6 separate regions of the Homo sapiens genome follow, and regions 1, 2, 3, 4 and 5 are each reported to be linked to region 6. Evidence: microRNA targets listed by miRTarBase, many of them from high-throughput screens and not tested one by one. Region 6 holds a microRNA gene; each other region holds the end of a gene's coding sequence.

Region 1 (5,064 bases), not on the chromosome of region 6:
AGGGGAGGAGCGTAATTGGTGGGAAGAAAGGAAACAGTGGGAGGAATGAGAGGCCTCCAGTCCCCAACACCCTACCTTCTCACAAGCTCCTGTATTTGCTAAGTCCAGAGCGCAAACAGACCAAGTGCACAGTTGTAAGGTTGCAGCGGTATCCCCAAGGCTGGGTTGCCCCATGCTAAGGCACGCTGTCTGTTTTCCAGGGTATCTTCATCAAAGATTCCAACTCACTGGCTTACTACAACATGGCCAATGGCGCAGTCATCCACCTGGCCCTCAAGGAGAGAGGCGGGAGGAAGAAGTAGACAAGAGGAACCTGCTGTCAAGTCCCTGCCATTTTGCCTCTCCTGTCTCCCACCCCCTGCCCCAGACCCAGGAGCCCCCCTGAGGCTTTGCCTTGCCTGCATATTTGTTTCGCTCTTACTCAGTTTGGGAATTCAAATTGTCCTGCAGAGGTTCATTCCCCTGACCCTTTCCCCACATTGGTAAGAGTAGCTGGGTTTTCTAAGCCACTCTCTGGAATCTCTTTGTGTTAGGGTCTCGATTTGAGGACATTCATTTCTTCAGCAGCCCATTAGCAACTGAGAGCCCAGGGATGTCCTACAGGATAGTTTCATAGTGACAGGTGGCACTTGGCTAATAGAATATGGCTGATATTGTCATTAATCATTTTGTACCTTGACATGGGTTGTCTAATAAAACTCGGACCCTTCTTGTGAAATCAGTTAAATAAGACTTGTCTCGGTCACCTGTGCCCTGTCCAGACTCGAGGCAGTGGTAACACTGCACAGTGCTATGTGGCTTCTCTTTGAGGATTTTTGGGTTTTGTAACTAAATTCTTGCTGCCCTCATACTTTTTATGTATTAGAATCATATTCGTATTGCCCTTTTAAAACATTGGGATCCTCCAAAGGCCTGCCCCATGTATTTAACAGTAATACAGGAAGCATGGCAGGCACCATGCAAACCAAGGATGGATGGTGCAGTCCCTGTGTCAGTGGGCGGTGGTTTCCTGCTGGCCTGGAATCACTCATCACCTGATTGATTGGCTCTGTGGTCCTGGGCAGGTGCCTCATAGGTGTGTGGATATGATGACGTTTCTTTAAAATGTATGTATTTAACAAATACTTAATTGTATTAAGGTCATGTACCAAGGATTTGATAAAGTTTAAATAATTTACTCTCTACTTTTATCCATTTTATCCATTTTAACTCATGTAATCCTCATGTGAGTATTCCTGTTTAACACTTGAGTAAACTGAGGCACAGAGAACATAAGTTGCATGCCATAGTCACACACTGTGAAAGTGAAAAGAGAATGTGTGCAAAACACGTCACAGTCCTGGTTTCTGAGTAAAGGCAGGCTGTTATCTTTAGAATCAAGCTATCACAGGGAGATAGGCAATGCTGTGGGTGTTGGAGGAAGGTGAGAGCCTGTTGCTAACAATTTCCTGGTTTTAAAGCTAAGGCTGATTTTATTGGGAAGATCTCACATGTGTGTGGCCCCTGAGAGTTCCCAGTGCCTTTTATTTGCAGTCCTTCCATTTGGACCTCCTAGCTGCCCCATCAGGTCATCTCCAGGGCTCAGAGGGGTGAGACCATTTCCCAAGGTCACAGAACCAGCTCTCTAGTCACCACCCTGCCTCTCCCTCTCACCCAGAGTCAGTACCAGTTTTATGGCTTTATTACAAACTGCTGGGTCCCTCCCATTTTCAACTTGATTGATGGGATGTCATCCCTTATCCTGTCTGACATTTGCCTCTGGCCTGGTTGCTAGAAGTTTGCCCCAGGGGCAAGAGTTGAAATTTGGCTTCCTGAGGTGGGCTTTGTGGTTTGCGTCCCTAAAGTGAGCCCACTACTGGTTGCTTGTCCATGGCCAACACCAGAAATCCCCTGAGCACTACCTGGGTCTCATTCCAAGAAGGAAGAGGGTCAGGAGACCTGGGGAGTCTCATATTCCAAGTTCTTCTTTCTTTCTGGGAGCAGTGGGCAGTTCATGGTGTTAGGGCACTCACCCCCACAGACTGGCAAACCCTGCAGGACTTCCGTGGCTGAGGCTGTGACCGGAGGCCAGGAATGCCGTTGGGTGGATTGTGAGTGAATGGGCCCTTTGAGCTGCCCTCTAGAGAGCAAATCCAGTTTCCTGGAGCTCCTGAATGAATATCTGTACTGGCTCGCTCAGATGCAGAAGCTCCATTGACCATGAGGCCTTGTGAACATCAGTGGCCACAGGCCCAGTGTGCTGCTTGGCACTGCACTAGTTTAGGACCTGCAGCATGTAGGTAGCGTCCTAGTGTTTATAATACAAAGCTGCTCTGCACAGCTTTTCTGATTCTTCTTGCAATCTCCTGAGGATTATCTGCCCCATTTTTAAAACGAGGTGGAATACCCAAGGTCATGTAGCCAGTGAGTGCTCTGGAAAGCCAAAGCAGCTCATCCCTTCCTGGGGACCACACTGCTCTGCTCCACCAGACCACACTATGAAATAGGAATAAGTGCTCCTGTTGCAGGACTGCTGGGAAAACAGGTGGTGTGGGACTTAAGTCACCATAATTTTGAAGACTTGCATGCAGAGGGCTCCAGGAATTGTAGACATTAAGGAATTTCACTTTCAGTTCTACCCACTACTTAAGTACTTGTCATGTACTCTTAGAGGAGGCCAGTAATGATCAGAACCATTTTACTTTAAAATTAATAATATTGTATTAGAGAATATATTAAATGGTTATATTGGGTTATGTTAGGATATATACTTGAATGGAAATACATGTACTATTAGCAATCATATTTCATTTATCCCTGTAATTAGACAAGAAAGCATAATATAGCTCTACTCATGGGTACACATACCAGTGTATAAGATTTTTAGAAGTTTACTTTTTAAAAATAAAAGCAAAATGTAAGATCTTAAGAGTTATGATCATTAACTCTACCAGATATGGAGATTTGCTGTTAACTATTCTGTATTGTTACATTTTTTTAATTCTGCATTGTTGCCAGGTGTAGTGGCTCACACCTGTAATCCCAGCACTTTGGGAGGCCGAGGCGGGCGGATCACCTGAGGTCGCGAGTTCAAGACCAGCCTGACCAACATGGAGAAACCCTGTCTCTACTAAAAATACAAAATTAGCCGGGCATGGTGGCACATGCCTGTAATCCCAGCTACTTGGGAGGCTGAGGCAGGAGGATCGCTTGAACCCAGGAGGTGGAGGTTGTGGTGAGCTGAGATAGCACCATTGCACTCCAGCCTGGGCAACAAGATTGAAACTCTGTCTAAAAAAAAAAAAAAAGGCTGCATTGTTATATAAAAGAACACTGCCTGGTGAGTTCCCTGACACCATGCCCTGACACTGCTCCCAGCATGTAAGTGAACAATTCTAGGTACCCCTGGACACTACAGTCCATGAAGCAGGACAAGATAAACTCCTGCCAGGCACAGTGACACACCTGTAGTTCCAGCTGCTTGGGAGGTTGAGGTAAGAGGATTGCTTGAGCCAGGAAGTTCAAAGTCAGCTTAGACAACATAGTGAGAACTCATCTCTAAAAAAGTTTTTTTAAATTAAAATTAAAATAGATCATTACAGAGAATACTGTTATAACAGGTGGCAGGTGCCTGTAATCCCAGCTACTTGGGAGGCTGAGGCAGGAGAATCTCTTGAACCCGGGAGGTGGAGGTTGCAGTGAGCCAGGATCACACCACTGCACTCCAGCCTGGGCAACAGAGCAAGACTCCGTCTCAAAAAAAAAAAAAAAAAAAAAAAGGGCATCTGGACTTTTGCTCATGGCCAGTGCTCACAGGTTTCCTGAGCACATGCCAACTGCACATTCCAGGATCCAGGAGAGGGGCCTATGTGAGATCCTCAAGCCCAGCTGTTGGGAATGACCCCAGCAGGATGAGACTCTGGGATATCAACACATTCTATCTTCAAAAGAATGTCTCCAACAGCCAGTTCACCAGGATGTTCCACAGCATTGCCTAAGGCCTCTTAAATTCTTTATTCCAGTGAACCACGTGATTCTGCAGGGCTCCTTTCTGATCATTTATTCATTGGTTCACTGTTGCCCTTGCTTTCTCACTCCAATCTAACAACACAGCCTCCTTCTCCTTCAAGGGGAAAATCATCTGCTGCCATGCTTGTACACTATTCTCAGTCCTGCAGAAGGGGTCCCTCATTTTCAGCCCATACCACCTCCCCAACACCTACTCCAGCATTCTCCATACCTTACCTGGCTTTATTTTCTTATTCTCACTACCTGATAGATGTTCTGTGCTTGTTCATGTTGTCCCTCCTCCACTGGACTATAAACTCTATTGGGCCAGGACTTCATCTCTCTTATTCACTAGAGCAAGCTCGTCCAACCCATGGCCCAGGAGAGCTTTGAATGTGGCCCAACACAAATTTGTAAACTTTCTCTTTTTTTTTTTTAGACAGAGTCTTGCTCTTTCGCCCAGGCTGGAGTGCAGTGGCGCCATCTCGGCTCACTGCAAGCTCCACCTCCCGGGTTCACGCCATTCTCCTGCCTCAGCCTCCCGAGTAGCTGGGACTACAGGCTCCTGCCACCACGCCCGGCTAATTTTTTGTATTTTTAGTAGAGACGGGGTTTCACCGTGTTAGCCAGGATGGTCTCGATCTCCTGACCTCATGATCCGCCCTCCTCGGCCTCCCAAAGTGCTGGGATTATAGGCATGAGCCGCGCCCGGCCCCAAATTTGTAAACTTCCTTAAAACATTATGAGATTTTTTTTTGCAATGTTTTTTAACTCATCAGCTATATCGTTAGTGTATTTTATGTATGGCCTAAGACAATTCTTCTTCCGGTGTGGCCCAGGGAAGCCGAAAGGTTGGACACCCCTGCACTAATGTCTGGCTCATTATAGGTGTATTAAATAAAGAACTCTGGAGTTTGGCCAGGCATGGAGGCTCACGCCTGTAATCCCAACAATTTGGGAGGCCAAGGCGGGAAGATCACTTGAGCCCAGGAGTTCAAGACCATCCTAGGCCACATAGTAAGACCTAATCTCTACAAAAAAATACAAAAGTTAGCAATTTCACACAAGGACACCCAG
Region 2 (5,074 bases), not on the chromosome of region 6:
GGGGCTGGGGGCCTTCCACGCAAACCGAAGGAGATACGGACATCGTCATTCTCCCCACCGCGCGAGCCGGGCCCGCCACCCACGCAGGGGAGACCGTGCCCGTGCCCCTCTCCCGCGCCTGCCGCAGGTGAGACCCTCGCTCCCCACGGAGTTCTGTTTGGGTTTCCGTGGCGTTTGTTCCCCGCAGGTTTGTTTATTTTTCTTCAAATTACAGATGCAGGGAAAACCGCCTGACATCATGAGAGCGGGACAAACGCTCACTTTGAAGGATTCCTGGGCAGGACTTCAAGTGAAATCATATGCCTGAGAAGAACTTGATACCGGTCTAGAGAAAATAACCAGTTCTGACTTTGCCAAACCATGGAATGTGCAAAATGCTCTACTTTTTTGCAAGAGGCCAAATGTCCCTTAAAAAGCTCCATTATGAATATGAACCTTAAGACCGAAGGGTCAAGAAGCTTGTGCCGTTGTTGAGTGTGGGAAAAAATTTACACACATCGTGCAAGTTTCTGCTCCTTAACATTATTTTATTAATAATACGTTCCACTTTGGGGAGGGGAACCTGTAACTGTGCGTGAATTATCATCTGGACATGTGCTTCTGTGAACAAAAGGGGAAATGTGCATATGGGTAAAAAAATTACTGCTTTCTTATAACTAAAGGCTATCAATCTGACCAACTTATAAATAAAAGTAATCAATAGCACAGTAAAGGAAACATTAAATTTTCTACAATTTACCCAAGACAATTTAATACAATACTTTCCCCTAGCAAATGCATTCTGAAGGAAAAAGATCCCAAGTGAACCAACACATTAATTGGAAAGCCTTAGCTTCTTATTTCCGAAAACAAGAGGTAATTCATTCTATGTGTTCTTTAAATAAGGGTAGGTAGCAAAAATAAAATGAAATAACATAAAATCAAAAGAAGATATAATGGTGGAGGAAAAGAAACAGGTGGCTTCATTTCTATTCTAAAAAAGAATTTCACGATTTATGTCTTGTGTATACAGGGGTAGGGATTAGAATCTGCAAGCTGGAAACTGCATTCCAGTAGTTAATATTTTTCATTGTGCAGTCGCCTCATTCAAAATAAAATTACCACCTTTTTCATTCATTTATTTCTCTGAAAATCTGGGGGGAAACATTACCTTCAGATTAGTATTTAATATTACTATAAATATGGCATTTGCTTTTCTCCAAAGTGTTTCCCCTTATGAAAAAAGTAGAAAAAGCAAAACACATTAAAAAAAGAAAGAAATAAAAGAAAGGCAAATGGAGAGCTACCTTTCTTTGACACATCTAGTTCTTATATCCAGAGTTAAGATAACAATTACCTTCTCAGCAGTCATGGCCAGCTCCATCCTGGTGTACCTTAAGAAATCTGAAATATCAAATAGTCAGACCAAGCTAGTGAACAAGGAGACTCCCCATGAATAATTTAGAAAATGGAGGTGGTTGGATGATACATACAAAAAAGAATTACCAACCTAATGCTTTCCCTCATCCTCCTAGGGCACCCTCCTTACATTTCTAACCTGCCTTACACACAACACACACACACCCCCAACAAATACACCAACACATAATCGCCTTCCCTTTCTGTTATTTGCTAAAGGACTATCAAAATAAAAAAATAATAATACTTCTCCAAGCTTTCACTAACCTTTTAATACAAGTCAATGCTGCAGACTCCTTATTGTAAAATATAGTCTGAAATATTAACAATAAATTCATAATATTCTTATGTCAGCATTCTATGGTGCTGTGTGAAGAAGAAAACAAAAACCTTCAGGCAATAAAATAACTTTGACCTGAGCTAAGCAAAAACGATCTGTTTGGATACATACACTTATTAGTCATTGTTTGAAACAGGCACCAAAATGATTTTCCAGTTTGAAAGCTTCCCCAGTTACACTTGGATGCAGTAAATCGGATGTAAAAGCTAAGAACTGATACAAAATCACTATTTCTAATAATGTTAATTATAAAAGCCAGTATGTTCCTGGCCCACAAATAATCAGAATGAAATAAAAAATCAAACACCCCCGTTTGCCCATTATTGTTTTACTTAACTTCAGATTGTGTGTGTGTGTATGTATGATCTCACCAGGGAAAAATTCTGTGTAATTCTGGATAAAATATAACGCTAATGAACTGACTAGTAACTGCATAGCTGTAGTATTTAAAACTGTGATTATTCCAACTGTGATTATATCCAGTTACCAAGGATACTGAAAGTTCAGGATCTTCATTTTTGTATATTATTCCACAGCCTTATATTCTTTACACATAAAAAAAGAATGATGCTTCCCAAATAGCGTCAATATAGCGATATATTAACTTTTCTTTTTAGCAAACATGACACTAAACGTCATATTCATTCATGAGAGAAGAGTTAAGCAAATTACAAATGGAATTTTCTCTTTTCTGCTGATTTACACTTTATTTTCTATGCATTTCTGGTCATTTCTATATGTGTATAGATAATTTTCATAACACTATATATGTTTTCACTGAAAAGAACCTGTTATTTAGGAATCTTCACAAAGAGTGAAGAGCATGACAAAAAGTACATAATAAGAGAATAGTGCAGGTTTTATACTCCTTATTTGCATTTAACTGTTTTAACAACTATCACCTCAAAATAAAAAGGAGGTGAATAGCAAATTTGTTAAGTTTTTGCTGTTTGGAGACAGTAAGAGATGAAGAGATGCTACTAAGCCCTCTGAATACCAAACTGGAATAATAATAAAGCTGTCTTTTAAAATAACATGCTTGTGCCTGTCAGTAGCTGCTTTATTTGAGTTTTTCATTGCTTTGTTTATATTAGTGCCCCCTCCCTCCTGGGTGCCTCTAGAATTAAACAAGCAGGTATTTACCACCAACTTAATCTTTAGTTTTAAAAATATAGACCAAACTCTAAGGTTCTCTAAATTTTTTATATTTATTTATTGCAGAAAAATATACAAAGATATTTACAAAACAATCATAAAAATATGAATGCATTTAGACACCGGATCTATTTGCATTTTACCATGGGTCCTCAATAAATAAATAGAATGTTGTTTTTTGTATTTTAAGTTTTTTTTTGTTTTTCCCCTCAGAGGAAGGATGAAAAAAAGAATTAACTGACTATGGTTTTGCAGGCCAGTTTGATCCCAGTATTTTTATTTCTAAAGGTGTTCTTATAGTTCCTCTGATTGTTACCATTTTAAAATAGAGAAAGTCCATAGTGATGCCTTTCCTTTCAGTGGCTGATTGGCACGACCTCTTGAGAATGCATGCATGAAAAAAATAAAAATAAAAACATTCTTCGTCAAAAAAAAAAAAAAAAAAAACACAAACAACTGTTCAGACTTCTATCAGAATGCAGAGGTGTGAGGATGGTGCCGCTGCCCGTCTGGGAATCACTGTCCACGGGCCTGTCTCGCTTTCTCTTTTAAAAGTGCGCCCCACGCCCTGTTTCTTTGAATTTGGATTTTGCTCTTCTAATTTCCAAGAAAATCTTTGGCATATATTTTTATTTTTAGTTATCCAGCTCCAGAGTCTCTAGACTGTCCATTTTCTCCTTCTCTGGAAACAATGACATCTGCAAAAACCCAGAGGGGGGGGGGGGAGTCGGTTATTGTTTAGGTCTCTGCGGCTGTTTTCTAAGACTAGTGAGCACTGTTCTTATCACCACCACTGAGAAATTAAGCTGAACAACCTGGAAGGATTTCAGCCCAAGGGCAAGAGGAAGTGGGTGGGTGGAAAGGAGGAGGAGGTGGAATTTGTTTTAAAACATTTGTTTTAAGGAGAACAAAAATTGAAAGCCGAAAGAAAGGGTGGCGCTGACAAAACGGTCCTTACCCGTGACCCTGGGTGTCTCTGTCTCCCCTCCTGTCACGCACACTCACGCGCACACACACCCCTCACCAGGGCGCATCCCCCTGGAGACTGCTCTCCCTAGCGGGGTCAGACCGGCCTTCCGGGGACGCTGGGGGCGCGAGGCAACGGTGCCAAGTGAGGTGGGAAGGCTGAGCGGAGAGTGGGAGAGGGGAGGAAATCGAGGTGGACTGGGAACCGCGGCCTGGCCGGCCTGCCGTCTGCCACCTGAGAGGCGAAGGGGTGCAGCGGCGCGGTCCTTACCTAGGTCTCCGGCCCTGCTGAGGGGGTGGGGGGCTCCGCCTGCTAGTGGGACGCGGACATGGACCAGGCCCCCTCCATCCTCCAGACCGAGAAGGCGTAGCTGAGCCGCTCGTGAGCCACATAGCTGCAGCTTGCCATCTTGGAGTCCAGCTCGTCGCTCTGGAGGACCTGGTAGAGGAAGTCGATGTACCTGGCCGCCAGCTTGAGGGTCTGAATCTTGCTCAGCTTGTCCGAGGGCAGCGTGGGGATGATCTTCCGCAGCGCGGCGAACGCCTCGTTCAGCGACTGGGTGCGCTGGCGCTCCCGCACGTTGGCCATGACCCGCTGCGTCTGCAGCTCCTCGTAAGACTGCGGACTCCCGCCGCCGCTGCTGCTGCCGCCGCCGCCGCCCGCGCCGCCGCCGCCGCCACAGCCCGCAGACTTCTTGCCGCGCTTGCCCTGGGCCGGGCTGCCCGGCTCGTCGCCGCCTCCGACGCCCCCACCCGCGGCTCCGCCGGGCCCCGCGCCGCCGCCCGCGCTGCGCCTGCTGCTGCGCCGCTTGCGTCCCCCGCGCTTGCCGCTCGGCGGCTGCTGCCGGTCTGGCTCTTCCTCGCTGTTGCTCAGGCTGTCGTCGGCCGGCGAGACTGGCGAGCTGGACACGTCCTGCATCATCTCTCGAGCGGCGACGCGTGGCCTCGCGGGCCCGGGGCAGAGGAGAAGAGCGGGGCGCCTCAGCCCGCCAGCTTCCCCCGCGCGCGGCGCCGGCCCGGGCGATGCGGCCCGCGGAGGAGAGAGCAGGAGGACGGACGGGAGGGACCTCCGCGGGGAGGGCGCGCGGGGGAGGCGGGGAGGGAGGCGGGAGGGGGAGGGGACGGTGTGGATGGCCCCGAGGTCCAAAAAGAAAGCGCCCAACGGCTGGACGCACACCCCGCCAGGCCTCCTGGAAACGGTGCCGGTGCTGCAGA
Region 3 (5,074 bases), not on the chromosome of region 6:
TACTGAAGAGAAACCCTACAAATGTGAAGAATGTGGCAAGGCTTTTAACCATTTCTCAGCCCTTAGGAAACATAAGATAATTCATACTGGAAAGAAACCCTACAAATGTGAAGAATGTGGCAAAGCTTTTAGCCAGTCCTCAACTCTTAGAAAACATGAGATAATTCATACTGGAGAGAAACCCTACAAATGTGAAGAATGTGGTAAAGCTTTTAAGTGGTCCTCAAAACTTACTGTACATAAGGTAATTCATACTGCAGAGAAACCCTGCAAATGTGAAGAATGTGGCAAAGCTTTTAAGCATTTCTCAGCCCTTAGAAAACATAAGATAATTCATACTGGAAAGAAACCCTATAAATGTGAAGAATGTGGCAAAGCTTTTAACAATTCCTCAACCCTTAGAAAACATGAGATAATTCATACTGGAGAGAAATCCTACAAATGTGAAGAATGTGGTAAAGCTTTTCAGTGGTCCTCAAAACTTACTTTACATAAGGTAATTCATATGGAGAGAAACCCTGCAAATGTGAAGAATGTGGCAAAGCTTTTAAACATTTCTCAGCCCTTAGAAAACATGAGATAATTCATACTGGAAAGAAACCCTACAAATGTGAAGAATGTGGCAAAGCTTTTAACAATTCCTCAACCCTTAGGAAACATAAGATAATTTATACTGGGAAGAAACCATACAAATGTGAAGAATGTGGCAAAGCTTTTAAGCAGTCCTCACACCTTACTAGACATAAAGCAGTTCATACTGGGGAGAAGCCCTACAAATGTGGAGAATGTGGAAAAGCTTTTAACAATTCCTCAACCCTTAAGAAACATAAGCTAATTCATACTAGGGAGAAATCGTACAAATGTGAAGAATGTGGCAAAGCTTTTAGCAATTTCTCAGCCCTTAGGAAACATAAGATAATTCATACTGGGGAGAAACCATACAAATGTGAAGAATGTGGTAAAGCTTTTAAGTGGTCTCAAAACTTATGGAACATAAGGTAATTCATACTGTAGAGAAACCCTACAAATGTGAAGAATGTGGCAAAGCTTTTAAGCATTTCTCAGCCCTTAGAAAACATGAGATAATTATACTGGAAAGAAACCCTACAAATGTGAAGAATGTGGCAAAGCTTTTAACAATTCCTCAACCCTTATGAAACATAAGATAATTCATACTGGGGAGAAACCGTACAAATGTGAAGAATGTGGCAAAGGTTTTAACAATTTCTCGACCCTTATGAAACATAAGATAATTCATACTGGGGAGAAACCGTACAAATGTGAAGAATGTGGCAAAGCTTTTAAGCAATCCTCACACCTTACTAAACATAAATCAATTCATACTGGAGAGAAACCCTACAAATGTGAAGAACGTGGCAAAGCTTTTAGCCATTTCTCACGCCTTACTAAACATAGGATAATTCATACTGGAAAGAAACCCTACAAATGTGAAGAGTGTGGTAAAGCATTTAGTCCTCAAACCTTACTAAACATAAGATAATTCATTCTGGAGAGAAACCCTACAAATGTGAAGAATGTGGCAAAGCCTTTAACCAGTCCTCACACCTTACTCAACATAAAACAATTCATACTGGAGGGAAAACCTACAAATGTGAAGAATGTGGCAAAGCTTTTAACCATCTTTCAGCCCTTACTAAACATAAGATAATTCATACTGGGGAGAAGCCCTAAAAATGTGAAGAATGTGTCAAAGCTTTCAACCATTTTACAAACCTTAATACACATAAGATAATTTATACTAGAGACAGACCCTCCATATGTGAAGAATGTGGCAAAGCTTTTAACCAGTCCTCAAGCCTTAATAGGCAGAAAACAATTCATGCTGGAGAGAAACCCCACAAATGTAAAGAATGTGGCAAAGCCTTTAACCAGTCCTCACACCTTAAATACACATAAAATAATTGATACTGGAGGAAAACCCTACAAATATAATAAAGGTGACAAAGCTTTTAACCATTGCTCAGCTGTTACTCAAAATGAGAGAATTCCTAAAGAAGATAAACTCCACAAATGTGAATAATATGGCAAAGCTTTTAACTGGTCCTCAAATCTTACTGAATGTAAGATAATTCATACTGAAGATAAACCCTTCAAATGTGAGGAATGTGGCAAAGCTTTTAATCAGTCCTCAAATCTTACTGAACATAAGATAATTCATAGTAGAGACAAACACTGCAAATATGAAGAATGGGCAAAGCTTTTAACCAGTCCTCAAACTTTACTCAACATAAAATAATTTATCTTGGAGAGGAACACTACAAATTTAAAGAATTTGGCAAAACTTTTAACTGCTTCTCAAAACTTACTGAACATAAGATAATTCATACTGGAGAGATACTTTACAAATGTGAAGAATGTGGCAAAGCTTCTAACGGGTTCTCAGATCTTACTGAATATAAGATAAATTAGAGAGAAACCCGCCTCATGTGAAGAGTGTGGCAAAACTTTTAACTGGTCCTCAAACCTTACTGAACATAAGATAATTCATACTGAAGAGAAACCCTACAAATATGAAAACTGTGGCAAAGCTTTTAACTGGTTTTCAGACCTTACTCAACAGAAAATAGTTGATACTGAAGACAAACTCTAGAAATGTGAAGAATGTGGCAATGCTTTTAATCAGTTAAACTTTATTAGACATAAGAAAATTCGTACTGGAGAAAAACCCTACAAATGTGAAGAAAGTGGCAATGCTTTTAGCCAGTCCTCAACTCTTGCTAAACAACATAATTCAATGGGAGAGAAACCCTACAAATGTGAATAATGCCATAAGCATTCTTCAATTTTTTTTTTTTTTTTTTTGAAACAGAGTTTCGCCCTAGTTGCCCAGGCTCTGGAGTGCAGTGGCACAATCTCGGCTCACTGCAACCTCCGCCTCCTGGGTTTTCAAGCGATTCTCCTGCCTCAGCCTCCCGAGTAGCAGGGACTATAGGCATGTGCCACCACGCCCACCTAATTTTGTATTTTTAGTAGAGACGGGGTTTCTCCATGTTGGTCAAGCTGGTCTCGAACTCCCGACCTCTGGTGATCTGCCCGCCTCGGCCTCCCAAAGTGCTGGGATTAAAGGCGTGAGCCACCGTGCCCAGCCTAATTCTTCAATTCTTAATAAACAATTTATACTGAAGAGAAACCCTACAAACGTGAAGAATGTTGCAAAGCTTTTAACGTCCTCAAACCTTACTGAACATAAGATAATTCATAATGGAAACTAGCCCTACAAATATGAAGAATGTGGCAAACACTGTAACCATTTCTCACATCTTACCACACATTAAGATAATTCATACTGAAGAGAAACCCGACAAATGTGAAGAATGTAACAAAGTCTTTAACTGGTCTTCAACTCATACTAAATATAAGAGAATTCATACAGAAGATAAATTTTATAAATATGAAGAATGTGACAAAAGCTTTAAAAACATTTCAACCCTTATTACACATAAGATAATTTATGTTGTAGAGAAATTCTACAAATGTGAAGAATGTGGCAAAGTTTTTTTTTTTTTTTTGAAATGGAGTCTCACTCTGTCGCCCAAATTGGAGTGCAATGGTGCAATCTCAGTTCATTGCAACCTCCGCCTCCTGGGTTCAAGCGATTCTCTGGCCTCAACCTCCCAAGCAGCTGGGATTGCAGGCGCCTGCCACCACGCCCAGCTAATTTTTGTATTTTTAGTAGAGACGGGGTTTCACCATTTTGACCAGGCTGGTTTTGAACTCCTGACCTCAAGTGATCCACCCGCCTTGGCCTCCCAAAGTGCCCCAAAGTGCTGGGATTACAAGCATGAGCCATTGAGCCCGGTCGAATGTGGCAAAGTTTTTAATAAGTTATCAAATCATACTGGAGAGAAGCTCTACAAACCTAAAAGACATGACAGTGCTCTTGAGAACACCTTAAACTTTTCTAAACATAAAAGAAATCATAGTGTCAAGAAGCCCTAGATGTGAGTCATGTCACAAAGCCTTTAAATGGTTGTCACACTTGAGTATAAGCTAATTTATCCTAGAGAAAACTATGAAGAATGTGGCAAAATATTTAACCAATACTCACACCTTATCGCATAGGAAAGCATTTATACTTGAAAAAAAATGTACACCTATGAAGAATGTGGAAAAGCCATTAATATCTGCTCACATCTTAACATCACAGAGTTTATACTTAAAACAAATATTAAAAATGCAATTACTGTGAGAATATCTTTTAGAAAATATAAACCTTAGAATGGTGAAGAGTATTTCTTTTGATGACAAACATTACAAATATAAAGACGGTTGTAGTACTATATTTGTATCACAGATCTTATTGTGCATATTTTGTGCTAGAGAAAAACCCTAAAGTTGCTCAAACTTTGTTCAATATCAGGGAATGTATAATAGAGAAAAAAACCTGCAAATGTAATAAATTTGGAAAAAAGTTTATAAACTACAGCTTAGAAAACAGAGTAAGTTTTTTTTGTAGATGCAGTAAATATGAAAAATATTCAATCCAAAATTAACTCTGTAAATGTCAGAGAATTCACAGTAGAAATGATAAGGCACTGGCACTTCAGACTACACTAAATCAGAGTGTTGAGTAAAAAAAATAATTTCAATCTAAAATTTAGATAAGTTATTTGCATATAACTTAAAAAAGAGGAGGTGATTTTTTGGAGAATTATAATTACATTTGAAGTATACTTTTTGTATACTTCAAATATCAAAAAAATTAACATCACAATATTGAAAAAAATTACAGACTCTGAAAAGCAAATAAGGATGTAATTCAACTCTCAAGTTACTTCATGCTCTTCATTCCTACTTTATTTACATGTGAAAGCATGCGATCAATTGTTGCTGCATCAGAGATATGAAAGATTCTTTTTTATTAGATGGGCATTATTTATGACCTTTTTCATAAAAGAGAAAGGATATTAAAATATAAAATGCATGATAAAAATCTAAATGGAGAGGCTTTTTGTGGTTAACTTAAAATATTGAGTGATGTATGAGGTAGGTGTTCTGAGGAATATATTTTTGTGCATTATAGTGAGAAAAACATTTTAAAATTTTAGTTAAA
Region 4 (5,074 bases), not on the chromosome of region 6:
AGTTTGTTTCCTTTGTAACAACATTGTTGTGCCTTGCTGACTGGAAGGTGGGTACAAATAAAGGAGGATGGACTGACAGCTGAAGAGGCACCAGTAATTAGCCCCTAATCCTTACCAGGGAGTCTCTCTGATGGGTTAAAGAAGCCTACAGAGGCCAGGGGCGGTGGCTCACACATGTAATCCCAGCACTTTAGGAGACTAAGGTGGATCGCTTGAGGTCAGGAGTTCAAGACCAGCCTGGCCAACATGGTGAAACCCGGTCTCTACTAAAAATACAAAAATTGGCTGGGTGTGGTGGCACACGGTTGTAATCCCAGCTACTCAGGAGGCTGAGGCAAGAGAATTGCTTGAACCTGGGAGGTGGAGGTTGCATTGAGCCAAAATTGAGCCACTGCACTCCAGCCTGGGTGACAAGTGAAACTCCATCCCACAAACACACCTGCCCCCCACCCACCAAAAAAAAAGGAGCCTATAGTTTCCAGTAGACAATTTGGGGTTAGTAAAGAATTTTACAAAATACTAAATGTAGTCTTGTATATTTTAGGATTGTTTGCCATGCAACTATGTACTGGGAGCACCTAAATGCCCACATGAAACCCTAGGCTGGGAAGAGGAAGGCTTTCGCAATGCCACGCAGCCGATAACATTTTCTGGTGGCAGGAAATGGGAGGGAGCAACCCCTCCTGGAGCATTTACCTTGCCAGGTGCTCTCACATCTTAGACCAGAAGTCACGAGGCTAGGATGAGGGTCCAGGAGGCAGAGAATGAGGATTGAGTTAGGGTCAGGACAGTGGACACAGAGAGGAGGAGACACAGAAGGATGGGTTGGGACTCTATCCTGGGGGAGGTGAGAGGCCACGCGGAGGGCTGTGAGCAGGGGAGTAGTGAGGTCAGCTCTAGTGTCAGGAAGCTCTCCATTAGGGGGATGGACTGAGGGGGGGATGTTGGGGGCTGGGAGGCCAAAGAGGAGGCTGGGCCGATGGTCCAGGTGGCAGAGGACGAGGCTTGAGCTGGGACCAAGGCCATGGAGACAGAGGTGACGGGATGAGGCCAGGAAGAACTTTAGGGGTAGGTATGGTGGTGCATAGGAGAACGTGATTGGGACAGGGCAGTGCTCTGGTCCATGAGGTTGGGCAGGTGATGGCACCACTCACTGGAACAAAGATCCCTGGAGGAGCACCCGATCCGGGCAGGTGGGAGGCACTGGCTCCTTTAGTGGCCCCTGAGGCACATCCTGGGGAAGGAGCCCAGGAGGCAGCTGGGGCCATGAGTCTGGAGATCAGGGGTGGGATCTGAGCTGGAGATGAGTTGGGGAATCGCTGGTGAAGAGGGGCTGTCTGGAACCTCCAGGGTGAAGGGATGGGGCAGACACCTGGAGTAGCAAGGGGGAAGCATGCACCACCATCACACACACATCCCTCTCCCCCAGCAAGGTGGGGCCCCACCGGGCCATGTCTTCCACAGACACATATGTGTGCAAAATGATGCAGCAGAACAGGGGGACTCCTGCAGTGCTGCTTAGAACTACTCAAATCCAGCAACACACTCTTACACCAGAGATGGAATAAGATGGCACCTTATACCAGAGATGGAAACTGCCCCAGCTATGTCAAAAGAAGGTGGGGGAAAAGAGCAACACTTGCAAAACTGTTGACATGTGCATCTGCTTGTTTCTGTGGAGAGTATCTGCAGCATACCAGGGGACAGAAAACTCAGGCTGCCTCCAGGGAGGGGAAGTGGGTGCTGGAGCCCAGAGTGAGCATACAGTTTCTGGACGTGGATTCCACTGCATCTTTTGTCTATTCTGGAGACAGGGTCTCACTCTGTCACCCAGGCTGGAGTAAAGTGATTCAATCACAGCTCAGGAAGCATCGAACTCTGGGGCTCAAGCGATCCTCCTGTCTCAGCCTCCCAAACAGCTGGGACTACAAGCATGAATCACTATGCCTGGCCAACCTACTCTATCTTTTGAGTTTCATACTTCATCCCTGGATAACCCGGTCAATAAAATAAAATAGTGAGTGGGTTCCCCAAGGACCGGCCAGACGGGGAAGAAAAGTTTAATAAGAACAGAACGCTAGGGGAGCCTGAAGGAGCTCAGGCATTTCCTGGAATACCCAACAGAGTAACCCTGCCAGCCTGAAAGCAACCGAGACTTAGAGGGAAAGGACATAATCAGGTTTATAAAGATCCCAATGTTTAACCCAGGAAAAATAAGATGTTCCCCCAGTGCCGGGGTAGAAGACATCTGCAGATCAGACACAGGGACCAGGACTCCAAGTTGGGAACACTTCCCAAAAAGCATCAGTAGGCCTGGCGCAGTGGCTCATGCCTGTAATCCCAGCACTTTGGGAAGCTGAGGCAGGTAGATCACCTGAGGTCAGGAGTTCAAGACTAGCCTGGCCAACATGGTGAAACCCTGTCTCTACTAACAATACAAAAATTAGCCAGGTGTGTTGGCGGGCGCCTGCAATCCCCGCTATTTGGGAGGCTGATGCAGGAGAATCGCTTAAACTCAGGAAGCGGAGGTTGCAGTGAGCTGAGATCGTGCCATTGTACTCCAGCCTGGATGACAGAGCGAGACTCTGCCTCAAAAAAAAAAAAAAAAAAAAAAAAAAAGCATTAGTAAATATTTCTGGAATCCTCTAGGAAAAGAATGAAGCAGGATTCACATGGAATGAAGACAGAAAAAGCATAAGCTATCTCCTGCAGGTGGAGAAAGAAACAGAAGTTAGCAATGCTAAGACTATCTTCTTTATTAAAGTTACCAAAAATAGGCCAGGCGCGGTGGCTCACGCCTGTAATCCCAGCACTTTGGGAAGCCGAGGCAGGTGGATCACTCGAGTCCAGCAGTTCACGACCAGCCTGGGCAATATGGTGAAACCCCGTCTCTACAAAAAATACAAAAACTAGCTGCGCGTGGTGGTGCACGCCTACAATTCCAGCTACTCAGGAGGCTGAGGTGGGAGAATCGCTGAGCCTGAGAGGTGGAGGTCGCAGTGAGTCAAGGTACCGCCACTGCACTCCAGCTTGGGTAACAGAGCAAGACCCTGACTCAAAAACAAAAAGAAGTGATGGGAGGGAAGGCAACCTCCCACGGTGCACCACCTCCTGGTCTTGACAGTCGACTCACAAACCATCACTTGTTTATAAACGCGTTTCCGATCTGCCATCGTAATTCCATTTTAGTCATGCATCCCGAGATCATTCAAACCACACCCAAGAGAGACTGGACGACAGCACTCACTAGGGTGCTATTTATAACCATACAATGCAGGAGGCTAGCTGCGTGTCGATCTGGGGGACAGTTTAATAAACTGCCACACAACACAGCTGAGCTCCACACAGCCACATGAGGATGGGGACAGCCATTCCTTGGGTTTCTGAATAACGTATCAAGTGAGCAGTGAATTTCAATCAAGCTTGTACATCAGGACCGTCTTGCCAAAACAACAGTTGCTTTTGGCTGCTGGAAGCTGTAGCTTTTCAAAACGTTCACACATTTCAATGTATCGTCGATGTTTTTAAATAGACTTACAGGGAGGGTGGCACACAGCAAAGGCCCGCAGGCCCTCGTAGCACCGCAGTCCAGGTAGGATGCTGGGCGGCGGGGGGTGGTGGAGGGGGTTCTATTTACAGTGTCTGGGCTTTGACTCCACTAACTGTTGGTTTTGTTTTCTTTCTTAAACCTTTTCCTTCAAGTCTGGAAGCCTGTGGAGGGCCTGTCACCTTAAAGGCAAGGATTCCTTGTTTGCACCAGGCAGACAAATGTCAAACCACGACCCCAGGGGCTGCACTAGGCGTCGGGCCCAGAAGCCCCCGGCCATCCAGCCCCGACTCTTTCATGCCTCTGCCCCTGATGAGGGGACCCAGGGTACCCTCAAGGGGACACAGAAGGGAGGCTGCATCCTAGTCCAGTGTCAAAGTGAGGGGGGCGCTGCAGGAGCCTGGACAGGACCACCTAGCCCAGCCAGGGACAGGAGGGTGAGACCACCTGGAACAAAGGCACAGAGGCTGGAGAGAAGGCGGCATGTTCCCAGACTGCATGGGCTCGGGGTAGGGGGATGCGAGGTCAGAACTGGCATAGTGGCCAGGATCTCGGGCTCTACTCCATGGGCAGGGGGGAAGCCCCTGGGGCTGCATGGGGCCATGGGGGAGGCGGGCGCAGGAGACACCGGCTGCTGTGCCAAAGGCCCCAGTCCAGCTGCTCCTCTGCCAGCAGAAGGCAGAGGACAAGGGGCTGGCCCAGGTGGCCTCGTGGGACGGGGGGAAAGGAGGGACCAGCAAACCCTTCTTGGGATGGCTGAGGACACAGGGGACTCCAGCAGAAAGGGAGGCCCCTGGGTGTGCAAGACGGGACGCTGACCAGCCTGGGCCCTCACCGGCCACTACCCCCACCACCACCCCCACCCCCACCCCCACCCTGGCCCCCGGTGTCTGGCGCTCCTGACATCATGAGGAACAGGACGACGGGAATGATGTACATCCACTGCAGCCGGACGGAAGGATGGACAGACAGACACAGAAAGAGAGAGAGAGGGGAAGGAGGTGAGTGTGGGCATCACCCACCCACGGTGGGGACCGGCATGAGGGGAGGTCGCGTAAGGGGAGGGCGCCCAGGTCCCCTACGTCACTACAGGTCAGGGAGGGCCAGTGGGGCGCAGGGAGGGGCAGGGGTCTCGGTCCTCACTCAGGCCTCCTGTGGCGGTGGCGCGGGCCCTGGCGCAGCAGGACGCAGGGCTGTGAGCAACACGGCCCCCCCCAGGATGATGTGCCACTGGGGAGGGAGGGAGCGCAGGTCAGGGCCAGTGGGCTGCCGTGGGGCCTGAGGGCCAGCAGGGAGTGGGAGGGCGCTCGAGTGGGCAGCAGGGCAGGGCCCAGCAGGCAAGGGCTCAGCCTCTGGGCCTCAGTTCCCTGCAGCACAACTGTTGGACTATCCAGGCGGAGCGGGTGAGGCCCTCAGGCAGGGCACTCAGCACAGCAGGGCTCAGCCATCCCAGCCTCAGCATCCTCCTAGCCTGCCTCGGGCCACACAGACCTCTTCGCTGGCCTTGGCCTGCCTGGGCTCCTGTGC
Region 5 (5,074 bases), not on the chromosome of region 6:
ATTAATGAAATGATATTATGCTGCATTTAAAAGAACATGCCTATGAAGCAGAATACCATGTAGTGCTACCATTTATTTGAAAGTCATTTTGACAACACTGTGCATACTTAGAGTTTTGGGTTAAAGATAATTGTGTATAGAAAACTATAGAAAACATTGCTTTGAAAGTGAAGCCAGTATCAATGTTATCCTAATCTCTTTGCCAAAAAAAAAGAAAACTATCTCTTAATTACACTACAATCAAATCGAGTCTTCAACTCTTATATGCTCATTCAGAATTTTAAAATCTCTCTCACGGGAGGAAATGTAAAAGGAAAGTTTTCAAGACCTTTTTGTACCTTAATATCCTTTTCAACTTCTAATGTAAAACGTATTTGTCCTGATACAATGCTGTGAAATAAAGACCACATCAGGAATGTAATGAAGTTTAAAAGTAGCTCCTTTTTTGCACTGAGAACAATTTTATTGATTCAAATTAGAAACTTCTAACTGGGGGCAGGAGAAAAAGGAGGAAGAAGAGAGAAGCAAGCAATCTGTGACCTAGCGCTGATTATTGGCTGACCTCTAATAAAGGAAGAAGATTCGGATTTCTGGTGCCAAAACGAAAGTAATAAAGTGGAAAATGAATTTTTGCAATCCCCACACATCACTGAATTTATCTATTGTCTTCTAGGCAAAGTAATCCTACAAAAGGAAGTTCTATTTCAAGGATTTTCACTCCTTTTCCATCTCTGAACTGAAAAGAAACAAGGGGCAGTTTGCAGCTTCAAAATATTTAAATAACCTATAACTCATATCAGTGTTCCAATTAAAAATTACCTAATCTGTTCTTTGCTCCTTGCAAGTTTCATTGAAGCAGTGCCCTTAACAGGCAAAGAAGGTACGTGGTAAAATTCAGCTCCCGGTAGAGTGTCCATCAACCAGCTCTGGCGGGATGTGCTGTCAGGAATGGAGCGCCCCCTGGAGGCCAGTCATCCAGCCAGTCTGTTCCCATCGATTAGAGCAGAGGCTCTCAAGTATGGTCCCTGGACCAACAGCATCAACACCACCTGAGAACTGTTAAGAAATCCAAGTTCTGGGGCCCCACCATAGGCCAACTGAAACAGAAACCTCTGTGGTGGGGCCCAGCAAACTACAGGCCTTGCAGGTGATGCTGATGCCTGCTAATTTTGAGAACCACTGTATTAGAACACCTCACTCCCCAAAGATGTCAGAATCAAGGTGTCATTGTGTTAAGAAATTATACAGGAATGAACAGAGCTGAAATGTCTTTCCTACATAGAGAAAGAACCAAGAGTTGATGTTTGTATCAAGTAAACACATTGAGTTACAATTTAGAAAATGTTGATACCAATGTATGTTTTAAATACATTAAAACAGCTTTTAGCAACCCTTTAATTATTCCCAATATATAGTTTGAATGAATTACTGTGTCCCTTGATGAAAAGGATAAAAAAGGAATGTAAGTGACTCTACCACAAATACAGGAAAAGTTTGGATAACCTCAGTACCTACCACTACCAACAACAAGACCAAAGAGTCTACCCCCACTGTTTATGATCCCTCCCTCTCTTCTCAGGACTGCCATCTGACTCAAACCAGTTCATGGCTATCTGACTACAAAACGAGGCTGAACTTGATCACAATCAAGGTGAAAATGAAAATAACAATCAAGAAAAACACTTCCCTCATTACTCATGATTTTTTTTAATTTAACATATATAGTACATGTAAACAACTGGCATAAAATTCATAAAAATACAATACTCCTATGCAATATCACTTTATTCCTGATACATACTTTCATTTTCTCATTAATATCACTGGCCTATTTTAACACTATATTTTTTTTGCCAAGCATTTTTAGAGGCTTATCTTTTTAAAGAAATACAGCCCCAACTTTGTTTTCGAAAATGTTGTAGCAATAGCTATTTTGATCGCTTCTTTGCCCATCCTTACTTTCCTCATACTAAAGCAAAAATATTTGTAAATGCTAACAATATGCAAAACACTGAGCTTTAATACTGTTTTGTACGCCTATGGAACCTGCTACCAATCTGCATTGCCATCAAAGGTGTGGATGCTCCACAGTGCTTGGGCTGCGAGCTGTGGCCACGGCTGCATAGCAGGGACCTTCAGGCCTCTGCTCCAAACTGGCTCCCCTAATATATAGCCATATTTTGCTGGGGGTTACATTCATAAACACTGCTACAAAAGGATCCTTCTGGAAAAAGCTAATTTATATTACTTTTAATGGTTCCCAGCAAATGAAGCAGTTATAATAGTATTTTTAATGCTTTTTTCCTATACAGAATTTCTACTTATTACATGTGAACTTCTTTGGAAGGAAATTACTGGGGGTGAGAAAAATATAAAATAAATGTAAAAGTATAATTTTTAAAAATTGTAACTGCTGGATGTACACAATCAGCCACACTCAGGTGAGCAACAATCACAGATAAGCAGCGCGCACCTCCCTCTCCCTGCTCATGTCAACTCCCATCCTCAGCCTCAAGTGTCCACCGCCCATTTTCCTGGACTGTTGTGCATCATCGCTCAAATGTTGCTTTTAATCCACAAATCAAGGGCTGCTTCCCTATTTTCTAAAACTAGCAAAAGCCTAAGAAATAAAAACAGTCAACCAGCAAATGAGAAACAGTGGCCACAAATCTGAAGAACGCTGCCAGAGTCCCTCTCCTGGGCTGCCTCCAGGGAAGGAGCATCCCTGGGAGCTGCGGCTCTAGGCGCTGGCACAAGACTGGGGGGCGGTGCTTCTCTGAGGGCACACTCCTCAGCCTTTGCAGCTGACTTATGTCAGCAAGCTGCTGCTTCCCCGGGACCAGGCCTGCCCTTGGGCTCTGGTAAGAAGGTAGAAAGGGAACAGCGGCTTCCAGGAGTGGGCACCAGAAACCATGCCTGAGGACTAAGGTCTGAAGGACAATCCACAATGAGGTTAATCTGCCTGTGGTTAAGAAAGAGAAGCTGTATAATTAAATGTGTAGTCTGTCAGCCATAGTCACGCTTTGCTTAGAATTTAAAACCCTAAAACCTTTTCTCAGAGCTATGAGGTTTCATCGTTTTGAAGAATCTCATTTCACACAAATTAACTTCTAAGAAACAAAAATTCATACAAGGAATTCAAAGAAGGTGTAGAAATTTTTCAAAATAAAAATAAATAGGAAGAAAAAAACTAAAGAGGAGGACGAAATATACTTATTCCTTATACTGAAATGATGGTTTTTAGAACCAAAATTATAACATAAGGCTTAAGGCTTTGTCTTATTAAAGACAGGCAATCTTAAAAGTAAAATATAAAAACTCCATTTATCATTATTCTTTACATTTTTGACAGCAAAATTAGTCATGTTTTATTGTATCTTAATAGTAAAAGAAAAATTACCATGTACTACAGTCTACTGTTCCACTATAAATGATGTCTAATCAAATATACATTAGTTTCTAGATGCACTATATTTGGGGTTGTTCAAAATAGTTTTTCTTAAAACTATAATTAAACATGAAAAAACTTTAAAGTGGTTTAAAGGTATTAAAATATAAACATTTGAATAATGCTAAAAATGAGAAAAATACAGTTACCATTAATTTTTTTTAAAACCAAGAATAAGTACTTGATAAGCAACTAAATGAGTAAACAGTACTTATTTGACAGAAAATATGGGGAAGAGGAGAAGAGAGAGAGCAAGAGAGAGAGAGAAAGAGACACGATAATGCCATATGGCTGGAAGTTAAGGGAATTTCCTAACCACAAGGTCCAAGAGTTTGGATTAATAATGGGCAGGAAAAGCTTCATTAACAAGAGAACAGAGAACAAAAAGCGCACAAGGAAGTAAAACAAACAGATAGTTCTATATAGCAAACACTCCATGTCTGCCCCATCTACTGTAACTCAAGTTGATGACAGGGGCTGACATGACCGAAGAACTTACAATCACTGAAATGTCCAAAAGACAAGAGCAAGAGGCAGAAAAAAGAAGCAAGGGGCATTAATAGTTCTTACACTATAAAATCAGCCCCTACATTGTCAGAATTGTCCTGTATTTTCATGTCATCCTTGTCACAACCCACTGTGTTTTCTTTATACAGGTAGCTTTGCTCACTTTAGCACAAATATTAAAGTCAAGTACAAGCATATACTCATTTGCATAGCAAATTTTAAAGGGTGCATTGAAATAGTAACCAATTGATAAAGGTGTAAGTCATTTTTATAATTAGAATGACATTCAAATTGACCAAATAAAACGTTTTCTATTTGAAAACAGTTACCTATAAAAGTTTTTGGGATATGAACAACACATGACTTAGCAAAACATTAAAACCATTACAGATGTAGTTCTCCGTAGGCAGCAGGTCATGTAGCAGTCATTCTTTTACAACTTCTAGGACTTTGTAAACACTGTTCTGGAATACAGTGGTGAAGTGAGGTTTGGAATCCTTCACCAAGAGGTTACATAAGGGAGTTTTCCCAGCATTGGCAGGATCTTCTACATCCCAAATTTCAGGCATACTGCAACCAGGCCTAGAAAAATGAATGTACATGTTAAAAATCAATATGCATTATATAACTGCAGAGAAAGCAGAGCACTTCTTACATTCCTGACCTCAATTCCTTTTTTCCCCTTAAATTACTTTAGTTTTTAAACAATCCTGTTACATAGCTATTTATGTTTTTATAAGCTGCCATGACTCACCTTAGGACAAGGTCAATGCAGCAAAGGTGACTATAAGGAAAGAAACAGACCTGTAGATACATATATCCAGGTGTTGCGGAAAGAGACACCTCAGTTAAACTCTGCCTCAGCTACTTATCAAGAATGTGGTTCTGGGCAGGTAGCTTCCCTTGGTCTTAGTTTTCACATTTGTAAAATGGGGAAATAAACAACCATGACATAGGTTTGTTGTGAGGATTATGAGAGACCAGGTATCTAGCACCATTCACACAGAAAAACGTATGACATTGATTTAAAAAATTATAATGAACAAATATGCTTAGTTCACAGGGAAGCTGCATTAATTGTATAGATGCTCCTCAACTTACAATGGGGTATGTTCCAAT
Region 6 (5,074 bases):
AGGAAAAGCAAGAAAGCAATTCTAAAACAGAAATATGGCCGGACATGGTGGCTCACCCCTGTAATCCCAACACTTTGGGAGGCAGAGGCGGGCAGATCGGTTGAGGCCAGAAGTTTGAGGCCAGTCTGGCCAACACGGTGAAACTCTCTCTCTACTAAAAAAATAAAAATAAAAATTAGCCAGGCATGGTGGCGGGTGCTGGCAATCCCAGCTACTCGGGAAGCTGAGGCATGAGAATTTCTTGAACCTGGGAAGCAGAAGCTGCAGTGAGCCGAGATCGTGCCACTGCACTCCAGCCTGGGTGACAGAGTGAGACTCCATCTCAAAAAAATAAAAGAAAATAAAATTCTGAAATATCTGAAAGGGCTGTACCTTCCACCTAAAGGAACACTGGCAAGAAAAGCAATCCACAAGCCTGTCTGAACAAACAGAAACAGACCTTAAATGGACAAACGTAATATTGTTTCTTTATACCATCTACATAATATTTACATTTTCCCATAGCTGGGAAATTACTCACTACAGTCAAGTACCCCTAAATTTACCTCTGGCATGTCATGAAACCTGCATCTGCTTAAGGCCTAAACGGATAAACGTGCTAGTTAAATTTCTCATCTCAGAGTTCCTCTGAAATTAAAGTCCAATAAAATCAACTGAATTTTAATTCCCTTGGAATGCCCTGTTAACTGTAAAACACTAAGAAATGCTAAAGTTAATTTTGGTACTGGTACTTTTCCTCCTACGTGATATATTTAACTATGTTGTTTTCTATTTTCATTTAAAAAAATTTTGCTCCTATGACTTTGCTGGCAAAATATCAAAAAAGATTCCTCGAAACAAGCATTTGTAGAAAATTTTCACGGTGGCCGGGCGCGGTGGCTCATGCTTATAATCTCAGCACTCAGGGAGGCCGAGGCAGGCGGATCACCTGAGGTCAGGGGTTCGAGACCAGCCTGACCAACATGGTGAAACCCCGTCTCTACTAAAAATACAAAAATTAGCTGGGCATGGTGGTATGCGCCTGTATTCCCAGCTACTGGGGAGGCTGAGACTGAAGAATCACTTGAACTCAGGAGATGGAGGTTGCAGTGAGCCAAGATCGTGCCACTGTACTACAGCCTGGGCAACAGAGCAAGACTCCATCTCAAAAAAAAAAAGAAAGAAAAAAGAAAATTTTCACAGTAAGCTTGTTTGAATTAAGAAATTGGGGATTAAGGAGGGCTCATAATCTATCAATCATAAAGTCAGAAGTAACTCTTCACATCTTTTTAAAAGATTCACTTGATAAAAAGATTCTGAAAGAAAAAATTTAAAGTAGGAGTTAATCAGAATAAAAGAGATTAAGCAACAATTTTCTACTTAGGCTTCAACAAGCCTGAAAGTATTAAGTTGGTGCAAAAGTAATTGAGATTTTTGCTACTGAAAGTAATGGCAAAAACCGCAATTACTTTTGCACCAACCTAATAGATGCCAATGCCGATTCCTTTCTCATCGCAATTTTTCAACAAAAGACAGTAAGCCTATAAGTAAACAGTATAAATTATCTTTGGTGGGTAAGGTTTCCAGCAGTTTGTCCTACCATCCTTTTTTCAATACCTAGTATACTTACAAAATAAGTTAGGACTGGCCAGGCACGGTGGCTCACACCTGTAATCCCAACACTTTGGGAGGCCAAGGCAGGCGGATAACGAGCTCAGGAGTTTGACACCAGCCTGACCAACATGGTGAAACCCTGACTCTACTAAAAATACAAAAAAAAAAAAAAAAATAGCTGGACATGGTGGTGCATGCCTGTAATCCCAACTACTCAGGAGGCTGAGGCAGGAAAATAGCTTGAATCTGGGAGGCAGAGATTGCAGTGAGCCAAGATCGCGCCACTGCACTCCAGCCTGGTGACAGAGCAAGACTGTCAAAAAGATAAAAATAAATAAGTTAGGTTCTTCTAAATTCTACCAGAGTGGTTGGAAAACAAGCCCTAAATTTATTGAAATTCAAAGATAAACAGGAACTTCTAGTCACCCTTTTTTTTAAAACACATGGTTAGTAGAAAACACATCACCCAACTCCCCACCTTCTGAATCCCACGGGTTTATTTATGGTGATGCTTTCTTAGCAATGCCTTTCCCATGTTGTAACTACAGGAGTAATAAGTATTTTTCTGAGTTTCAGTGATGTCAGCCTGAAACACATTCTGAAGTATTTCAAAATGCCTGGGCCGGGCACGGTGGCTCACGCCTATAATCCCAGCACTTTGGGAGGCCCAGGCGGGTAGATTACCGGAGATCAGGAGTTCGAGACCATCCAGCCTGATCAATCCTGTCTCTACTAAAAATACAAAAATTAGCCGCGCATAGTGGCGCATGCCCATAATCCCAGCTACTTGGGAGGATGAAGCAGGAGAATCACTTGAACCTGGGAGGCGGAGGTTGCAGTGAGCCAAGTTCGCACCATTGCTCTCCAGCCTGGGCAACATGACCGAAACTCCATCTTAAAAAAATGAAAGCCTGAATATGTAATATCCTTTTGGTACAAACAGTGTAAGTCAAAAAAAACCCTGAAGTTCAGCTGACCTCAAAAAAGCAGAACCATCTACCAAGCTAAAAATGCACAGACTCAAGCAGTGCTCTCTCAAGATTTTGCCTACCTAATAGACAAATGGGCAAAGGTCATGCATGGACAATTCTCACACAAGGGAGATTTACTCAGAAGTATTTAAAAAGTATTAAATTCACAGTTAATTAAAGGAATGTGCCAGGCGCAGTGCCTCACGTCTGTAATCTCAGCACTTTGGGAGGCCGAGGTGGGTGGACCACCTGAGGTCAGGAGTTTGAGACCAGCCTGGCCAACATGGTGAAACCCCATCTCTACTAAAAATACAAAAATTAGCAGGGCGTAGTGGCAGGCGCCTGTAATCCCAGCTACTTGGGAGGCTGAGGCAGGAGAATCTCTTGAACCTGGGAGGCGGAGGTTGCAGTAAGCCAAGATCGCGCCATTACACTCCAGCCTGGGTGACGAGTAAAACTCCACCTCAAAAAATAATAATTTAAAAAATAATAATAAAGGAATGTAAATTAAATAGCAATAAGGTGCCTTTAGTTATTGAAGTTTTTTTTCTCTATTTTAATGACTATATCCAATGGAAGTAAGGGTGTAATGAAACTTAAAAATAGACATAAATTGGCAATATATAACTAGAATCATAAAAAGTCACACCCTCATAATTAGTAAAATTCCATTTTTGTACAACTATCCTATAAAATTAATCCATAATGGAAAAGGTTTCATGCTCAAGGTATTTATTAGTGCTATTTACAGTAGCAAAAATTAGAAACCTCCACATTTTCCAATATTTGGGAATAACGCCAATTCAATAAAATACAATGTAGACAACAAAATGACAGCTGAAATCAAGCAGCAGTATTCCATAATCCTGGGTTTAAATAAGGATTCAAATTTGTCAGTATAGTATTCCTCAAAAAATTAAAAACAGAATTACCATATGATTCTATAGCAACTGTTACTTATGGGTATATATCGCAAAAAGTTTTAAGAGGGGTCTTTAAGAGATATTTGTACACCCCTGTTCACAGCATCATTATTCACATGAGCCAAAAGGTGGAAGCAATCCTAATGTCTATGGAAGAATCAATGGATAAACAAAAAGTGATATATACATACAATGGATATATTATTCAGCCTTTAAAAGGAAGGAAATTCTGACACATACTCCAACATGAATAAATCTTGATGACATCAAGCTAAGTAAACTAAGCCAGTTACAAAAAAACAATTACTACACAAATTCACTTATCTAGACTAGTCAGACGAACCTATATACGCCCCCCATGAAGGCAGGTTTCAATCTGTTTCGTTCACCACCAAATCTCTAGCACTTAGTCTAGCATCATTGTGAATATTCAATACTTGAAAAATGAATTCAGAAAACTACACACACACACACACACACACAGTCAACCTGCACTAATTTCTTTTTTTTTTTTTTTTGATATAAAGTCTCACTCTGTTGCCCAAGCTGGAGTGCAGTGGCGCAATCTCGGCTCACCACAACCTCCACCTCCCAGGTTCAAGCGATTCTCCTGTCTCAGCCTACCGAGTAGCTGGGAGTACAGGCATGCACCACCATGCCTGCCTAATTTTTGTATTTTTAGTAGAGACGGGGTTTCACTATATTGGCCAGGTTAGTCTTGAACTCCCGACCTCGTGATCCGCCCGCCTTGGCCTCCCAATGTGCTGGGATTACAGGCGTGAGCCACCACGCCTGGCAACCTGCACTAATTTTAAGTGAACTCTTTGCTGACTATATTCTAAGTCCGTTAACTCCAAGATCTTCTAAATCCATCCTTCTGGTCTCCAATTCCCAAACTCACCCTTTTTCCTCCTCTAATTATCTCACCTTGTTTAGCATCTGGAAAAAGAACCAAGTGAGGCAATATATAATTAGTAAATTATTCTTAGCTGACTGAATCATGTAGCAGCAGTTAGCAATTACAGTCCACAAAATGCAAAATATTAAGCTTGCTCCTTTAATACTCTATGAAACATGAGCCCTCTTCTGTCCTTAAACTGAAGGCAGAGTTGCACCGAGAATGCCATTAGGTCAGTTTTATCTTATTGGCTCATGTGGAAAAAAAAAAGGGAAGTTCCCCACACAAAAGTTTCACAACCCCAAAATGCTGGTATGTGTGTCCCTGGATAGGCTGAGAAGAAACTATCCCCAACAGTAAAGGGCAAGTTCCCCTTCACAAAGAAAAATCTTCCCAACACACCAGGCTGGTACCCCCACATCCATCCATCTGCAGCCACCAAGACAATGGAGATTCAAACCTCTGGCAAGGGCTGCCAGCCCTGCTTCAGCAAACAGCATTGTTCAACAAAAATATCATGCGAGCCACATGCATAATTTTAAGTTTTCCATAGCCATGCTAAAAAATAAGTAACATTAAATTTACTTAACTCAAATATTATCGAATATTATCATTTCAACATGTAATTGCAATTTTTTAATTATCATATTTTACATTCTTTCTTTTTTTTTATTATTATACTTTAAGTT

Evidence for each region. Region 6 holds the annotated microRNA hsa-miR-548c-3p (CAAAAAUCUCAAUUACUUUUGC, at 1,395-1,416, opposite strand). A microRNA usually pairs through its seed, bases 2 to 8, with sites in the 3' UTR of a target mRNA and lowers its output. Matches are read on the target gene's strand: a 7mer-m8 pairs with bases 2 to 8, a 7mer-A1 pairs with bases 2 to 7 and ends in A, and an 8mer does both.
Region 1: miRTarBase lists SF3A1 as a target of hsa-miR-548c-3p. Seed matches in the 3' UTR shown: 7mer-m8 at 811-817, 7mer-A1 at 2,364-2,370 and 8mer at 2,858-2,865.
Region 2: the mRNA of TWIST1 is a reported target of hsa-miR-548c-3p. Seed matches in the 3' UTR shown: 7mer-A1 at 3,298-3,304 and 7mer-A1 at 2,992-2,998.
Region 3: the mRNA of ZNF99 is a reported target of hsa-miR-548c-3p. Seed matches in the 3' UTR shown: 7mer-A1 at 2,984-2,990, 7mer-A1 at 3,687-3,693 and 7mer-m8 at 4,659-4,665.
Region 4: the mRNA of EMC10 is a reported target of hsa-miR-548c-3p. Seed matches in the 3' UTR shown: 7mer-A1 at 268-274.
Region 5: the mRNA of DPY19L1 is a reported target of hsa-miR-548c-3p. Seed matches in the 3' UTR shown: 7mer-A1 at 3,574-3,580, 7mer-A1 at 3,167-3,173, 7mer-A1 at 2,399-2,405 and 7mer-A1 at 1,754-1,760.

Annotation. Positions count from the first base shown.
Region 1 is chr22:30,329,832-30,334,895 of GRCh38, reverse strand. It overlaps SF3A1 (splicing factor 3a subunit 1), which reads left to right. Exons shown (of 16, transcript NM_005877.6): 16 at 201-2,908. The coding sequence ends at 302. Among named protein-coding and RNA genes, the nearest start is that of TBC1D10A, 5.4 kb to the right of the region's middle.
Region 2 is chr7:19,112,541-19,117,614 of GRCh38, forward strand. It overlaps TWIST1 (twist family bHLH transcription factor 1), which reads right to left. Exons shown (of 2, transcript NM_000474.4): 1 at 4,131-5,074; 2 at 2,928-3,591. The coding sequence starts at 4,781. The coding sequence ends at 4,173. It overlaps LOC124901597 (a long non-coding RNA gene), which reads left to right. Exons shown (of 3, transcript XR_007060241.1): 2 at 1-127; 3 at 215-705. Among named protein-coding and RNA genes, the nearest start is that of TWIST1, 2.6 kb to the right of the region's middle. RefSeq lists enhancers at 4,103-4,362, 4,386-5,074.
Region 3 is chr19:22,752,823-22,757,896 of GRCh38, reverse strand. ZNF99 (zinc finger protein 99) reads left to right here. Exons shown (of 4, transcript NM_001080409.3): 4 at 1-5,074. The coding sequence ends at 583. Among named protein-coding and RNA genes, the nearest start is that of ZNF99, 29 kb to the left of the region's middle.
Region 4 is chr19:50,481,564-50,486,637 of GRCh38, reverse strand. It overlaps EMC10 (ER membrane protein complex subunit 10), which reads right to left. Exons shown (of 7, transcript NM_206538.4): 7 at 1-4,489. The coding sequence ends at 4,379. Among named protein-coding and RNA genes, the nearest start is that of MYREM, 4.8 kb to the left of the region's middle.
Region 5 is chr7:34,927,193-34,932,266 of GRCh38, forward strand. It overlaps DPY19L1 (dpy-19 like C-mannosyltransferase 1), which reads right to left. Exons shown (of 22, transcript NM_001366673.1): 22 at 1,689-4,537. The coding sequence ends at 4,381. Among named protein-coding and RNA genes, the nearest start is that of MIR548N, 11 kb to the right of the region's middle.
Region 6 is chr12:64,618,911-64,623,984 of GRCh38, reverse strand. It overlaps MIR548C (microRNA 548c), which reads right to left and starts at 1,476; the gene lies at 1,380-1,476. All of the region lies in intron 1 of RASSF3 (Ras association domain family member 3), which reads right to left. MIR548Z (microRNA 548z) reads left to right here and starts at 1,380; the gene lies at 1,380-1,476. RefSeq lists an enhancer at 2,395-2,554.